Homo sapiens: one gene and its partners. The protein of the gene in region 4 interacts with the protein of the main gene of each other region in a pairwise test. Each region holds a gene or a part of one and is shown on either strand. Other genes may lie near its edges. The genes, in order: LAPTM4B, UBE2U, SCAMP4 and CGRRF1.

Region 1 (3,567 bases), on a different chromosome or scaffold from region 4:
GCAGTGAGCCGAGATCGCACCTCTGCACTCCAGCCTAGGTGACAGAGTGAGACTCTGTCTCAACAACAACAACAACAAGACGGGGTCTCACTCTGTCACCCAGGCTGAAGTACAGTGCTGCTATCATAGCACACTACAGCCTCACACTCCCAGCTCAAACAATCTTCTCACTTCAGCCTCCCAAAGTGTTGGGATCACAGGTGTGAGCCATTTCACCTGGCCAACTGGTTTCCAATGAACCACTTTCTTTCTACTCCTTTTCATCACAGTACCTATATGAATTTTCTGCCTCAATGCAGCTTTCCCAAGTTTACTGAGGCATGATTTTTGAAGAATGACATAATTTTATGCCAAAATTAAGACAATGAAAGGCATTGAGATTCAAAAATTCAAAGTATGCTGGGTGCAGTGGTTCACACCTGTAATCCCAAAACTTTGGGAAACCAAGGCAGGAGGCAGCCTAGACTACAGGGAGAGACCCTACCTCAAAAAAAAAAAAAAAAGAAAGAAAGAAAAATAAATAAAAAAAGAAAAAAGTTGAAAGCATAAAGAGCCATGAGAGTTTTCTACCCATTAGTAGCTCATAAGCACAAGTTATAATGATGGTTTTATAAACAGATTGACCAAGATGAAAAAGAATTTGCAGCAATTGATTGATAAGGGTGAGGCACTGCTGCAGGAAGTAGAAGTCATTTAACTTTGGGGGACATCAATTTGACAACCTATCAAAGGCTTTCCAACCATGAACACCCTGATTTTAAGAAATTTATCTTGAAGCCGGGCACAGTGGCTCATGCCTGTAATCCCAGCTTTGGGAGGCCGAGGTGGGCGGATCATGAGGTCAGGAGATCGAGACCATCCTGGCTAACACAGTGAAACCCCATCTCTACTAAAAATACAAAAAAATTTGCTGGGCATGGTGGCGGGTATCTGTGGTCCCACCTACTGGGGAGGCTGAGGCAAGATAATGGCGTGAAGCCGGGAGGCGAAGCTCGCAGTAAGCCGAGGTTGCGCCACTGCACTCCAACCTGGGCGACAGAGCGAGACTCCATCTCAAAAAAAAAAAAAAAAAAAAAAAAAGGAAATTTATCTTGAGATAAATGCATAAATATAAGGATGTACTTAAATATATTCACTACAGCCCTATTAAGTGAAAAAGTAAAAAATGTCTCAATGCTCATCAAGTAATTTATTAAATAATGATATTCATATAATGGATTGAGATAGAACAATATTCAGAAAATATTACACTTTTAGCAAAAAATTACAAAAGAATATCCATTACACAGACCTTGTAACAGACGTTGCAATATCATATACTATGTAATGTATAACATTATGTTAACTTATCTCTGTCCAAATATATTTTGGACTCCTTGATCAAACTGTGGAATTTTGATTAGTGTTTACCTCCAACATAGACAGCATAAAGAATTGTAATCTTAGGAAATCAAAAAGCAATTTGGATGTCCAAAGAAAGACAATAAACTGACCAAAGTTTGTTTACTTATTTGGTATTCAGGAATACACTTAATATTTTTAGACTATAAGTAAAATCTTCATGCTTACCTTAAAAGTCAAGATAATGCTAATAAACAGAAGAATAATAAGGACCAAACAGGTAGGATTCACTGACATGACATCATCTCTGTAGGGAAAATTAGGAGGCTGCAAAAGAAAAGGGCCTCATTAGCAAATCTCATTAATCATTCCAGACAGTATTCCTTGGGCACCAATTCAGACATGCTTATCAGAAAGCAACTGATTAAAGCAGACAGCTATTATTTAGAACCAATACAAAATTTCTAGCCTGACTCTGCCCTCTTACCATATAAAAGACGTCAGTGATCGGTATCCAGGGACATTTTGTATATCCAGGGATCTCTGAAATTTGTATTCTCTGCAAGTTCTGAACCATTCCTTTTTTTTTTTTTTTTCTTTTTTGAGATGGAGTTTCTCTCTGTCGCCCAGCTCAGCTACTTGGGAGGCTGGGGTGAGCAAATCACTTGAGCCCTGGTGGTGGAGGTTGCAGTGAGCGAGATCATGCCACTGCACTCCAGCCGCCCGGGCGACAGAGCCAGACCATGTCTCAAAAGTTCTGAACCATTCTAAAGGGCATATGCAGGGCAAGGGACAGAAACCTACTAAAATGAGGTCTTCTTTGCAAAGAGCATTTTTGTTGATGGTACTTCTCCCAAGACAGCATATTCTCTTATACTAGCAAGTACTTCCAGGGTGGGGGGAAATAATCAAGCACTACCATCCACAATGCTTAACAACCAGGTCAAAGGGAACCTTTTCAGGAGGATCAAAGTCTGCTACTATGGTTAGAGGGAGTTGCCGGACTTTCCCCACAGAACACTCACACAGCATTGATCAACGCCTACATCACTGGCCTAGGCAAGTGAATGGGAAGGCAGCCTACTGTGCTATCTCATCTTTTATCTCCCTTCACCATTCAACACTATGTGTTTGGATTCCTCACGAGCAATATTCCAAAACAAAGTTGTTTCCAATGTTGAGGAAGAACATGGAGAAGGCCCATGACTCATGGGCTTGGCTCCTGCTCACCAGGGTGAACACCACCTAATGGTTTTCAGTCTCCTTTCACTTGGGACAAAATATCTAAGAAATAAAATCGTCATTCTTTGTGATCAGATCATGCAACTTTACTCTTTTATTAATAAAATAACTTGGCCAAGCACAGTGGCTCATGCCTGTAATTTCAGCACTTTGGGAGGCTGAGGCAGGCAGATTGCTTGAGTGCAGGTGTTTGAGACCAGCCTGGACAACATAGTCAAACCCCATCTCTACTAAAAATACAAATTTAGCCGGGCATGGTGGTGCATGTCTGTAGTCCAAACTACTTGGGAGGCTAAGGTGGAAGGATCACTTGAGCCCAGAAGATTGAGGTTGCAGGCTGGGCATGGTGGCTCACGCCTGTAATCTCAGCACTTTGGGAGGCCAAGGTGGGCGGATCACCTGAGGTCAGGAGTTCGAGACCAGCCTGGTCAACATGGCAAAACCCCACCTCTACTAAAAAAAAAATACAAAAATTAGCCAGGCATGGTAGTGGGCGCCTGTATTCCTAGCACTCTGGGAGGCCGATGAGGGTGGATCCTCTGAGGCTAAATGTTTGAGACCAGCCTGGAAAAGATGGTGAAACCCCATCTCTACTAAAAATACAAAAAATTAGCCAGGCTTGGTAGCGGGTGCCTGTAATCCCAGCTACTCAGGAGACTGAGGCAGGAGAATGGCTTGAACCCAGGGAGGCGGAGGTTGCAGTGAGCCGAGATCACAACACTGCACTCCAGCCTAGGTGATAGAGTGAGACTCTGTCTCAAAAAAAAAAAAAAAAAAAAGTAAAGTTGGCCTGGTACAGTGAGTCACATCTATAATGCCAGCACTTTGGGAGGCCAAGGCTGGAGGATCACTTGAGTCTAGGAGTTTGAGACAAGCCTGGGCAACATGGTGAAACCCCATCTCTACATAAGATACAAAAAGAAAAATTAGGTGGGCATGGTGGTGCATGCCTATAGTGCCAGCTACTCAAGAGGTTGAGATGGG
Region 2 (4,238 bases), on a different chromosome or scaffold from region 4:
GCTGTTTACTCTGCCCGAATTTCCTTATCCTTCTTCTGAACCTGGCAGATTCTTCAGGACTCAACTCAAATGTGATCTCCTTGGGAAGACATTCCTGACTCCCTCAGGCATAATTAACTAATCCTCTTCCTCTTTAGCATTCTGTTCAAAATCCATAATAATGTATATTTTATTGTAATTATCAGCTGATGTGTTTGTCTCCCCTACCTCACTCAAGGAATCTATCTTATTAATCCATAATTGAAAGAAAACATGAGCATTAAAGTTTATAGTGGCTTAGTGTTCTTGAGATTTTTTGATTTATGAAAATTTGGGGGAAAATCATAAAGGAAAAAATGAGAAGTAACTGTGGGGTTTTGAAGCCAATAGGAATTTTGATAGTTATTCCCTGATCTCACGGAAGGCAGACGATATTCTCTCAATTGATATGCTCTATTGTGTCTGCTTCTTAAAAATGTAATAAAATTAAGATTTGGCATAAAGAAAAATACCCCAAATTTCCATCTATGTTGACACATGGCAAAAAAGTCATAAATAAAAAAAATGGGAATATTTTTAGAATTTTAGACAACTGGTATAATGCAAACTTATGCATATGAAGAAGAATTTCAGGAAATTTATATAATGCGACCTTATCCTACATAAAAAGAGGATGGGCTAATAATGGTATAAAGACTTTTTTAAAAAATAGATTGGTTTTGAAAATACAAACCCTGCCAAACTGAATTCTGTAGACCTTCAATTTCAACTTCCCATTCCATCATATCTTCACTTACAGGCTTAGCAGTGATACCCTTGAAGTTAAAAACAAAATTAAATCAGAAAAAACTTATTAAGTATTTATTGAAGTTTTGAAAATCATATACCAGGTCACACTGAATTCTAAAAACTCTAAATTTTCTTTCCTTGATAAGTTTATTTATTTGCTGCTCTGGGGAAGTGTTACATGTCTTATTTCACGGAAGTTAATATAGATCCCAGAAAACATATGCAATAGTAATTAAAAATAAATCATAAGTGTGGAAATCACAAGTGGGACTAGAGAGTCAAGATTAGAATGTGTGGCTTATATACTGTTTGTGTAAATCAATAACCAATTTAATATTCAAATTTTAAAAGAAAGAAATAGTTGGAAAGTGCATGTTTCTTCAAAACATTTTAGAGCTATATGAATGCTATATGAAAGGCATGAAGTGGGAACATTTTCATTAAGAAAAAATCCAAAATTACACTTGTATATAAAAGCAAAGTTTTCCTATACTTGAGGAGTTGTTCCAATGGAGGGACAAGAATGTATTTCATAGAAAACCTTATGAATTACGTTAAGTAACACACTTACAAACACATAAAAACACTTCTGAGCATCCACATAGTTATTAAGTATGTTAGTGCTTGTCTGGGTGAGCCCTGTCTCTCTATTATCTATATTTACATATTCCTTCATTGGATTCTCTTTCAACAGAGAACTACAGAGCTCAGGATGAGCAGAAACAATATCAAATGTTAGGTCCATGCCCCAGGAATGTTCGCTGTTGGACTCCATAATTGTTCCTAACATCTCCAGTGAATGCAGTACTTTTATAGCAGAGGTAAAAAATGAACAATGCCACTGAACTACACCTGAAGCAACTGTGGGAAGCACTCTATACCTTTCATGGACAGCTTTCTTTCTGTTCTTTCTCTTAAGCACTCCCTCTTCGCCCCCTCTTCCATTTTTCATTTTCCGTAAATCAGCCTGTGGCAGCCATGGACATTGATAACCTCATTGGTGGCGTTTAAGCCCAAGGACATTGCTTCTTTTGTGTTAAAACTATAAAGGGAAGGCATTTATGTGTCATGCTGGTAAAAGTACACTAGACAGTAAGCAGTGGAACACAGGAATTAAGAACTAGGGCTTTGAAGTCCAAAAACCCTGTAATGGAATCATGGGGCAAAATCTTTACAGAATATTTCTGAGGCTTAGGTTTTTGGTAAGTAAAATGAAATACTACTTATTGTATAGTATTATAATTAATGAGCATAAGCCTGCACCTACTAGTCACTAACTACATGACAGACCCTGATATTCAGTGCCTAGATCCACATAAATTACTCTGCATAATATGTTCAATATTGTTAAGCATTATTATTTTGAAGTAATAATAATTGTTATTAATATGAAACACATTACTTCAGTGAAATGGATTTATTAAATAACAATACTGTAGTGGCAAATCAGGTTTAACTAAATTACTACTTATAGAATAAAATGGGTTAAACTGCCTCTTAAAAATTATTGCACAATGAAACACATCTCTCCACGTGCCCAGTACTTACCTTATAATTGTTCTCCTTGAGATCACAGAAGTCTCTGTGCAGCAAGAGGTAAGCTCTGCCGTGCATGATAGGCAGCGGAGGGTCTGACACTTGTCCCCAAATGCCTCAGGTTTACTCTGAGGCAGATGTTTGAAGTTATGGGTCACTTTCCCACACTTAGTAAACTGATATAAGTTACTTGCTTTCTAGAACCTCAGAACGGTACCAAGATAAGCGGCTTCTAAAGTTGGGATATAACAATGACTTTTTCTCCTGACTCCTCTAAACGAGAACTTCCCGAAGGAAGACTTGGGCACTTCCTCATCTGCGGCGTTTCACTGCAGTGCCGGCTCACAGCCCAGTCTCAAGACAAACTTGGATGAGTAACGGAGACAAGCCCATGTCGTCGGCGCGTGAGTGGGAGTGAGAGGTGTACGCCTATCAGGGTCCTAGCAGGTTGTCTTCGCTTCACAGGTGCAACCCCGCAGCCACGCACCGGAGGAAGCAAATCGGTTGCCAACCAACAGGCCCCCGTGGGGCCGCCGAGAGACGGAGGCAGGGGGTTGGCCGCTCTCACCCAATCAGCGACAGGGGGCAGGCCTCTTGCTATCTCCACAGCCAATCCTACAACAGTTTCCCCTTTGAAAGGCCAATGAGATTCGTGGTCAAGGCAACACCACGCCTTCTCAGGCCACGAACATGGACTGTACAAAACTAGTGTAGAGGATGGGGTGAGGTCCCAGGACCCAGCATGTAAGTCACAGAAGCCGTCCCACGAAGTCTTTCTTCGAAATTATCCTTCCTTTTTCTTTGACTATCAAAAGATATAGTAAGTGACTGGTAGGTACAGGTCTGCATAACAATATCTTAACTTACATGGCGAGTTACCATTCACAGTAGTGTGCATGCTATTATGTCATCAAACCCTACAATCACCCTGGGAAAGTGCTCCAGGAACAGGGAACTGCTTAAAATTTCTCTGATTCCCATCTCTTCCCGCACAGTTTCGCACCTGCTGTTCCTTCTACCTAGGAGTTTACCACATTCCTTCCACCCCTTCAGCCCTCATTTCCCCTTCACTCACTCATCCTTCAGATTTTAACGACTCTTTAAGGGATCCTTTCTTTTGTGATCCCACAGGACCTTCTATTTGCCTCCTAGTTAACATTTGCCATACGGCATCACAATTGTCTATTGTCTTCACCAGAGTGGGAACTACTGAAAGACACGGTTCCATTGCCAGCGCCAACTACAAAGCCTGGCATCTTTGTTCAGAATACTTTCTTTTTTTACTTTTTACTTACTAATTTTATAGAATCCGGATGTTCATTTAGTCCATTCATTTTACAAATATTTATTAAATACTTTTTTTTTACTTGAAAGATTCAAATGAAGTAAATGTCTTTATGGCTCCAATATACAATAAACAAGTATGCAAAACAAAAATCATGATTTCAGATGGTGATAAACGTTATGTGGACAATAATAAAACAGTACCATGATAGAGATTGGGGTAGGTCATTAAGGATTAGAAATGGTAGTCAGGAAATGCCTCTGTAAGGAATGGGGTTTTGAACTCATACATGAAAGATGAGAAGGAGCCTGCTACATGAAATATTGAGGGCAGAGAGTTCTAGGAAGAGGAAAACAAGATATTTTTGAGTCAGGAAAGAGCTTGTCTTGAAAAGGGAACAAGGGAAGGTCAGGGAGGTTGTGGAGGAGCCTGGGAGGGGTGTGATAAAGATGGGCACTATACAGTAGGAAGTTTGGGCTTTATTTGAATAGCTATGGGAATCCATTTAATGGGTTTAAACAGGAGAGTGTCATGCTCTGATTTATTTATTTATTTATTTATTTATTTATTTATTTTATTGATCATTCTTGGGTGTTTCTCGCAGAGGGGGATTTGGCAGGGTCATAGGACAATAGTGGAGGGAAGGTCA
Region 3 (3,567 bases), on a different chromosome or scaffold from region 4:
TCTACTAAAAATACAAAAATTAGCCAGGCATGAGGGCGCATGCCTGTAATCCCAGCTATCTGGGAGGCTGAAGCGGGAGGCTGCAGTGAGCCGAGATCGTGCCGTTGCTCTCCAGCCTGGGGGACAGAGCAAGATTCTGTCTCAAAATAAAAAAACGAGGGAAAGCACTGCTTAGATCAGCCACCAGTGGGACACTGGGAAGGCCAGCACGCCCTGGGTCCCTCTGTGCAGGACCAGCCTCTGGGCATTGCACCTGCCTTTGAGACCCAGGAGGCAGAAAACAGTCATTTTGAGATTTTTGTCTTAACAGGTGATGAAACCACAGGGTTTAAAATTCAGGGAACTTAAAGGCAGGCACGACGTACAGTCTCTCTCCTGCTGACTCCCCTCCCTGGTGCACAGGCAGCCCGCAGGACCCACACCCCCGGATGTGTCCGGGGAGCTTATGCACACACATGCACGGGGCGTGATATGCACGCACACGCGGTACCCCCCGCCGCGTCCCTGCAAGATGCTGGCCTGTCCTGTGTTCGCCTGCTTGGAGCCTCCACAGCATCACAGGCTGCATGGTCTTTGGGTCATTCCTTCCTCTTTTTTTTTTTCTGGAGAGATGGTTTCTCCCTATGTTGCCCAGGCCAGTCTGAACTCCTGGCCTCAAGCAGTGATTCTCCTGCTTTGGCCTCCCAAAGCGCTGGGATTACAGGCGTCAGCCACCATGCCTGGCCTCTTTTATTTTTTAAAAAAGTAAACCTCTGTTTGGATGTAATTTTAGATTTATGAAAAGCGGCAAAGGCATTTGAGGACTCCTGCCGCCGCCCCCGCAGCTTCCCACTGGCCAGCATCGCACGCCCCCGCATGCAAGTGTCAGGTCTAGGGAGGCACCCAGCACACTGTCAGTGGGCTGCATGCTCCGCTTAGAGGCTGCGGCGCCCGCTGATGTCCGATTCCTGGCGGGGCCCACCGGGGGCCCCTGCTGCACCGTGTCCTCAGTACCTGGCTGCCGCCATGTGGCCACCCTCACCATCTACACAGCTAGGCCCCGCTGGGGGTCATTTCTCTGGAGTTTCCAGTCCTCTGCCACCACAGATGCTGCCGTGGCTCATGGCCTCGGGCATGCGTCACCCCTGGGGAGGTGACGCTGGTGAAGCTGCCCGGGGCAGGGAGAGCGGGGCTGTCGCCTCTTGCCCCACAGCAGTGCACAGAGTGTGTGGGGAGGTGGCGCTGGTGAAGCCGCCCAGGACAGGGAGAGCGGGGCTGTCCCCTCTCGCCCCACAGCAGCGCACTGAGCGTGGGGCCTCACTAAGCCAACGGTGGACATGAAGTCGCTGTGCGCTGTGGTTTGATTTCTCTCATTACAAGGGGGGCCGGGCTCTCCTAAGACCCGCTGGGTTTCTTTCTCAAGAGCGTTCACCTTCTGTCCACCTCGGGCAGGGACCGCATGCTCAGCTTCTCCCGTGACCTGCGGGAGATGACCCAGGCTCCAATGAGAAGAGCCAAGTCGCTGCTGCCGCACGTGCACGAGGGCCGAGGGGGCAGGGAGGTCTCTGAGGGTCACATGTGGGCACTCACCTCATGCCGGGATCTCAGGACCACCCAACACGGGCACAGGCCTGTCCACCCAGCTCAGCCTGGGAGAGCTGGGGACGCACCGGGGAGGCGGCTCACAGGAGGCACTGGAGCCCAGGGAAGGGCCAGTGGGAGCCGAGCTGGCAGCTGGGAGCTCAGGAGGACTCGGAGGATGACGAGCAGTGCCTTGACCTGCAGCCACAGCCTCTGCAGGAGGGGGAAGCACCCCAAAGGCTGGCAGAGCTGGGAGTCCCAGGCACACGCTCACTATGACTCTAACTCAGATCCCTGGGGCAACGTCACTCAGGCTCTTGGGGTGGCAGGTGACAGACCAGCTTCAGCGGCACATCCGAGGGGTGCACAAACCACAGATCCCAGCCACCCTGGAGGGCCTGGCGCCAGGCGCAGGTGCAGGAGGGGAGAGGCCTGCAGATCGAGGGGCCCTGAAGGGAGAGGAGTCACCATCCCAGGAAACCTGGGACCTTATCTGGATTCTGATCTGTGCACTGGCGTGAGAGTACCGCAGTCTTGTGGGGCAGGAACCCCAGAACAGGAGCTTGCTAATGGGAGCCCAGGAAACCAAAGGCACCCACGGCTCCGTGAGCAGCGTCACCCGTGGGGAGCTCCCGCCGTGCCAAGGACAAGGGAGACACGTCGGGGACGTGGGCGAGAACAGTCACTCTCTGCAACTGAGAATTACAAATTATTCCAAAATAAAAAGCCTATTTAAAAAGCCACAAATTTGGCCAGGCACAGTGGCTCACGCCTGTAATCCCAGCACTTTGGGAGGCCGAGGCGGGTGGATCACGAGGTTAGGAGTTTCAGACCAGCCTGACCAACACATGGTGAAACCCCGTCTCTTACTAAAAATACAAAAATTTGCTGGGTGTGGGGGCACACACCTGTAGTCCCAGCTACTCGGGAGGCTGAGGCAGGAGAATCGCTTGAACCTGGGAGGTGAAGGTTGCAGTGAGCCAAGATCATGTCACTGCACCCCAGCCTGAGTGACAGAGAGCGACTCCATCTCAAAAAAAAATAATAATAGTTTAAAAAAAGGGCCGGGTGCAGTGGCTCACACCTGTAATCCTAGCACTTTGGGAGGCTGAGAAAGGCGGATTGCCTGAGCTCGGGAGTTCGATACCAGCCTGGGCAACACGGTGAAACCCCGTCTCTACTAAAATACAAAAGAAATTAGCCAGGCGTGGTGGCGGGCGCCTGTAGTCCCAGCTACTCGGGAGGCTGAGGCAGGAGAATTGCTTGAACCCAGGATGTGGAGGTTGCAGTGAGCTGAGATTGCACCACTGCGCCCCAGCCTGGGTGACAGAGCAAGACTCTGTCTCAAAAAAAAAAAAAAAAAAAAGAAAAGAAAAAAGGCAGAAATTTAAGACACCAACACAAACACTTCTGGGCACCTGGCAGCCTTAGAGAGTGACTGTGAGTTTCTCAGGTGTGGTAACAGCACCAGGTATGTGTGTTTTTACAGATGTACAGGTCTTCCTCCTGCAGCGATCCGTGCAGAAACATCAGCAGCCAGGAACTGGCTCCCAGACCCCGGGTCAGGGGTGTGATCAACACTCAGGAGACAAGCCTGGCTGGGCGCTGGCGAGGACGCAGGCACTGCCAGGGCGAGCTCGGACCCCTCCCTAGGAGAGTGCCTACAATCGCGAACCATGGCTGGGTGCTGGCGAGGACGCGGGCGCTGGCGAGGACGCGGGCGCTGCCAGGGTGAGCTCAGACCCCTCCCTAGGAGAGCGCGTACAATCCCGGACCAGCACGCTCCGGTGGCCGCCTGGCTTCCCAGCAGGCCCACAACCTGGCAGCTGAGCCACATCACAGCCACCACGCCCATCAGAGAGAGGCTTACCACGCGCCCCAGCCGGAGAAGCCAATCGCCTGGATGACGGTCAGGACAAACTGGGCTCCGAAGATGAAGAAAAACGCCATGAAATTAAAGGAGCTGTCGGCTCTGGGGAGGGACAGAAAACACGACGGTTACCACAG
Region 4 (3,567 bases):
GTGGATTAATGTGGACAGATATGTAATAGAGAAATTACAGTAAAATGCTGATTGTAGAATCTAAGTGATGGGCAGATGTGTGTTCACTGTGTAATTCTTTCTAGTATTCTGTATGTTTGAAAATTTTTATAATAAAATGCTGGGAACAAATACCTTTATGGATCCAAAAAAAGCAAAGAAACAAAGTAATGAGTAAGGCTATGCCATGGTTTCATGGTTCTCAGTCTGGCAGCAGACAGTGGCAACCAAGCCTTCATGTACTAAGGAGACCAGCATAGGCTGTCTTCTCCAGACAAGGGCCAGAGCCAGGTTTATAACTTGGAACCAGGAGCTGGATTAGGTCAATACAAAAATACGCAGAACTGTCGTTATAAGACTTGGTCCTAGGCTGGGTGCACTGGCTCCTGCCCATAATCCCAGAACTTTGGGAGGCTGAGGAGGGAGGAATGCTTGAGCCCAGGAGTTCGACACCAGTCTGGGCAACAATAGCGAGACCCCATCTCTACAAAAAAAAAAAAAAAAAAATGGAAAATTAGTTGGGCATGGTGGTGTACACCTGTGGTCCCAGCTACTTAAGAGGCTGAGGTGGAAGGATCGCTTGAGCCTGGGAGGTCAAGACTGCAGTAAGCAGAGATTGTGCCACTGCACTCCAGCCTGGGCAACACAGAGAGATTCTGTCTCAAAAAAAAAAGGCCAGGCACAGTAGCTCACGCCTGTGATCCCAACATTTTGGGAGGCCAAGGTGGGCAGATCACCCGAGGTCGGGAGTTCAAGACCAGCTTGAACAACATGGAGAAACCCCGTCTCTACTAAAAATACAAAAAAAATTAGCTGGGCATGGTGGTGCATGCCTGTAATCCCAGCTACTTGGGAGGCTGAGGCAGGAGAATTGCTTGAACCCAGGAGGCAGAGGTTGCAGAGAGCCGAGATCATGCCATTGTACTCCAGCCTGGGCAACAAGAGTGAAACTCCGTCCCAAACAAAACAAAACAAAACAAAACAAAACAACAAAAACCTAGTCCTGGTCTGGAGGTCTAGGAATCTGGGTATAAATGAATATAAAATGTTTTTGCAATCTATCCATCTGACAAAGGTCTAATATCCAGAGTCTACAAGGAACTTAAACAAATTTACAAGAAAAAAACAACCCCATTAAAAAGTAGGCAAACCACATGAACAGACACTTCTTAAAAGACATTCATGCAGCCAACAAACATGTGAAAAACAGCTCAACATCACTGATCATTAGAGAAATGCAAATCAAAACCACAATGAGATACCATTTCACGCCAGTCATAATGGCAATTATTAAAAAAATCCAGAAACAACAGATCTTGGCAAAGTTGTGGAGAAAAAGAAACACTTTTTTTTTTCTTTTTTTTTTTTGAGATGGAGTTTCGCTCTTGTTGCCCAGGCTGGACTGCAATGGCATGATCTCAGCTCACCGCAACCTCCACCTCCTGGGTTCAAGTGATTCTCCTGCCTCAGCCTCCCAAGTAGCTGGGATTCCAGGCATGCACCACCACGCCTGGCTAATTTTTTTTTGTATTTTTAGTAGAGACGGGATTTCTCCATGTTGGTCAGGCTGGTCTCAAGCTCCCGACCTCAGGTGATCTGCCCACCTCGGCCTCCCAAAGTGCTAGGATTACAGGCATGAGCCACTGCGCCTGGCCTAAAAGAAACACTTTTGCACTGTTGGTGGGAATATAAATTAGTTCAACTATTGTGGAAGACAGTATGGCAATTCCTCAAAAATCTAGAGGCAGAAATACCATTTGACCCAGCAATCCTATTACTGAGTATATACCCAAAGGAATATAAATCATTCTATTATAAAGATACATGCATGCATATATTAATTTCAGCACTAGTCACAATAGCAAAGACATGGAATCAACCCAAATGCCCATTAGTGATAGACTGGATGAAGAAAATGTGGTACATATGCACCACAGAATACTATGCAGCCATAAAAAGGAACAAGGTCATGTCCTTTGCAGGAAAATGCGTCAAGCTGGAAGCCATTATCCTCAGCAAACTAATGCAAGAACAGAAAATCAAACATTGCATATTCTCACTTGTAAGTGGGAGCAGACAGTGAGAACACATGGACACATGGAGGGGAAACAACACAGACTGGGGCCCATCAGGGTGGGAGCTGGGGGAGGGAGAGCATCAAGAATAGCTAATGGATGCTGGGCTTAATATCAAGGTGAATGGTTGATCTGTGCAGCTAACCACCATGGCACACATTTACCTATGTAACAAACCTGCACATCCTGCACATGTACCCCAGAACTTAAAAGTTGAAGGAAAAAATAAAATAAAATACTCAACTAAAAATAATAATAATAATAATAATTGCAAAGTGGATAAACAGTGAGGGTGATAACAAAGGGAGAAAAGTAACAAAACAAAACGAATCTTCCACTAAAATTTAGGTTGAAAACTAAAGTTTCAAAACACACAAGTCTAACACTGAAAGATAACCAATAAAATTAACAAATGAAATAAAAATTCACTTTTGATGACTCTGATTTTATAAAAGAGTTGGGTAAGACTGCTCTGGTCCTGCCTAACAAAGCTGAAAAGCAAGCCTCTAACAGACTAAACTATTTCTGAGTAACTTAACAGTGACCCAGAATAAAGCTCAAGAATATTTAGAGGAATACAAAAATATCCAGCACCTAGTAAGGTAAAATTCACAAAGTATAGCATCTGATAAAAAAACATTAACAGGCATGCAAAGAGCAGGAAAACAGTACCCACAATGAGGAGCAAAACTCTATAGAAATAGATCCAGAAATCATACAGATACTTGAATTAGTAGACAAGGATATAAAAATAGCTCCTAGGACTATATTCCATATGTTTCAGAAGAAAAGTAATGACTGCACATATGATATAGAGGCATGGAAGATATTTAAAAGGCCCAAATCAATATTTAGAGATGAAAAAGATAATGTTTTAGATAAAAAATATAGTGGATGAGATTAACAGCAGATTAGGTATTGCACAATAAAAGATTAGTAATCTTGAAGACAACATAACAGAAAGTACTGAAATTGAAACACAGAAAGGAAAAAGACTGAACAACAACAACAACAAAAAGCATCAGTAAGCCAACTTTTAGTCAGCCATGTAACTGAAGTCTTAACATATCACTGAAGTTTGCAGAGGACAGATAAAGTATTTGAACACATAATGGCGAAAACCTTCCCCAACATGTTGAAAACTATAAAAACCTACAGACCCAAGAATCTCAATGAGCTCCAAGCACAAGAAACAAGGAAAATTACCTAAGGCACATAATAATCAAATTGCTTAAAACCAGTAATATAGAGAAAATCCTAAGAAAAAGAAAGAAGATATGCTACGGTAGCCAAAGAAAAGGAAAAAAAGATATACTACACATAGAGGAACAAAGATAAGAATGTCAGTAGCTTTTTAATATTAATAAGAAGCAATGGAAGGCAGAATATCTTTAAAGAACTAACAGGAAAAAAATCTTGTCAATCTAGAATTCTATACCTATATTTTTCCAAAGCAAAATAAAGACTTTTTCAA

Evidence for each region.
Region 1: the proteins of CGRRF1 (region 4) and LAPTM4B interact in binary tests that used the Homo sapiens proteins (3 or more experiments, as listed by UniProt).
Region 2: the proteins of CGRRF1 (region 4) and UBE2U interact in a two-hybrid assay, tested with the Homo sapiens proteins (one large-scale study listed by BioGRID and IntAct).
Region 3: the proteins of CGRRF1 (region 4) and SCAMP4 interact in binary tests that used the Homo sapiens proteins (3 or more experiments, as listed by UniProt).

The regions. Positions count from the first base shown.
Region 1 is NC_000008.11:97,817,241-97,820,807, reverse strand, and holds part of LAPTM4B (lysosomal-associated transmembrane protein 4B), read right to left. Parts: intron 1,669-3,567; coding exon 1,570-1,668; intron 1-1,569. UniProt on the Homo sapiens protein: Required for optimal lysosomal function. Blocks EGF-stimulated EGFR intraluminal sorting and degradation.
Region 2 is NC_000001.11:64,202,195-64,206,432, reverse strand, and holds the start of UBE2U (ubiquitin-conjugating enzyme E2 U), read right to left. Parts: upstream 2,811-4,238; 5' UTR 2,383-2,810; coding exon 2,317-2,382; intron 1,893-2,316; exon of another isoform or gene 1,650-1,892; intron 795-1,649; coding exon 713-794; intron 1-712. UniProt on the Homo sapiens protein: Catalyzes the covalent attachment of ubiquitin to other proteins.
Region 3 is NC_000019.10:1,918,854-1,922,420, reverse strand, and holds part of SCAMP4 (secretory carrier-associated membrane protein 4), read right to left. Parts: intron 3,533-3,567; coding exon 3,431-3,532; intron 1-3,430. UniProt on the Homo sapiens protein: Probably involved in membrane protein trafficking.
Region 4 is NC_000014.9:54,516,370-54,519,936, reverse strand, and holds part of CGRRF1 (cell growth regulator with RING finger domain protein 1), read right to left. Parts: intron 1-3,567. UniProt on the Homo sapiens protein: Able to inhibit growth in several cell lines.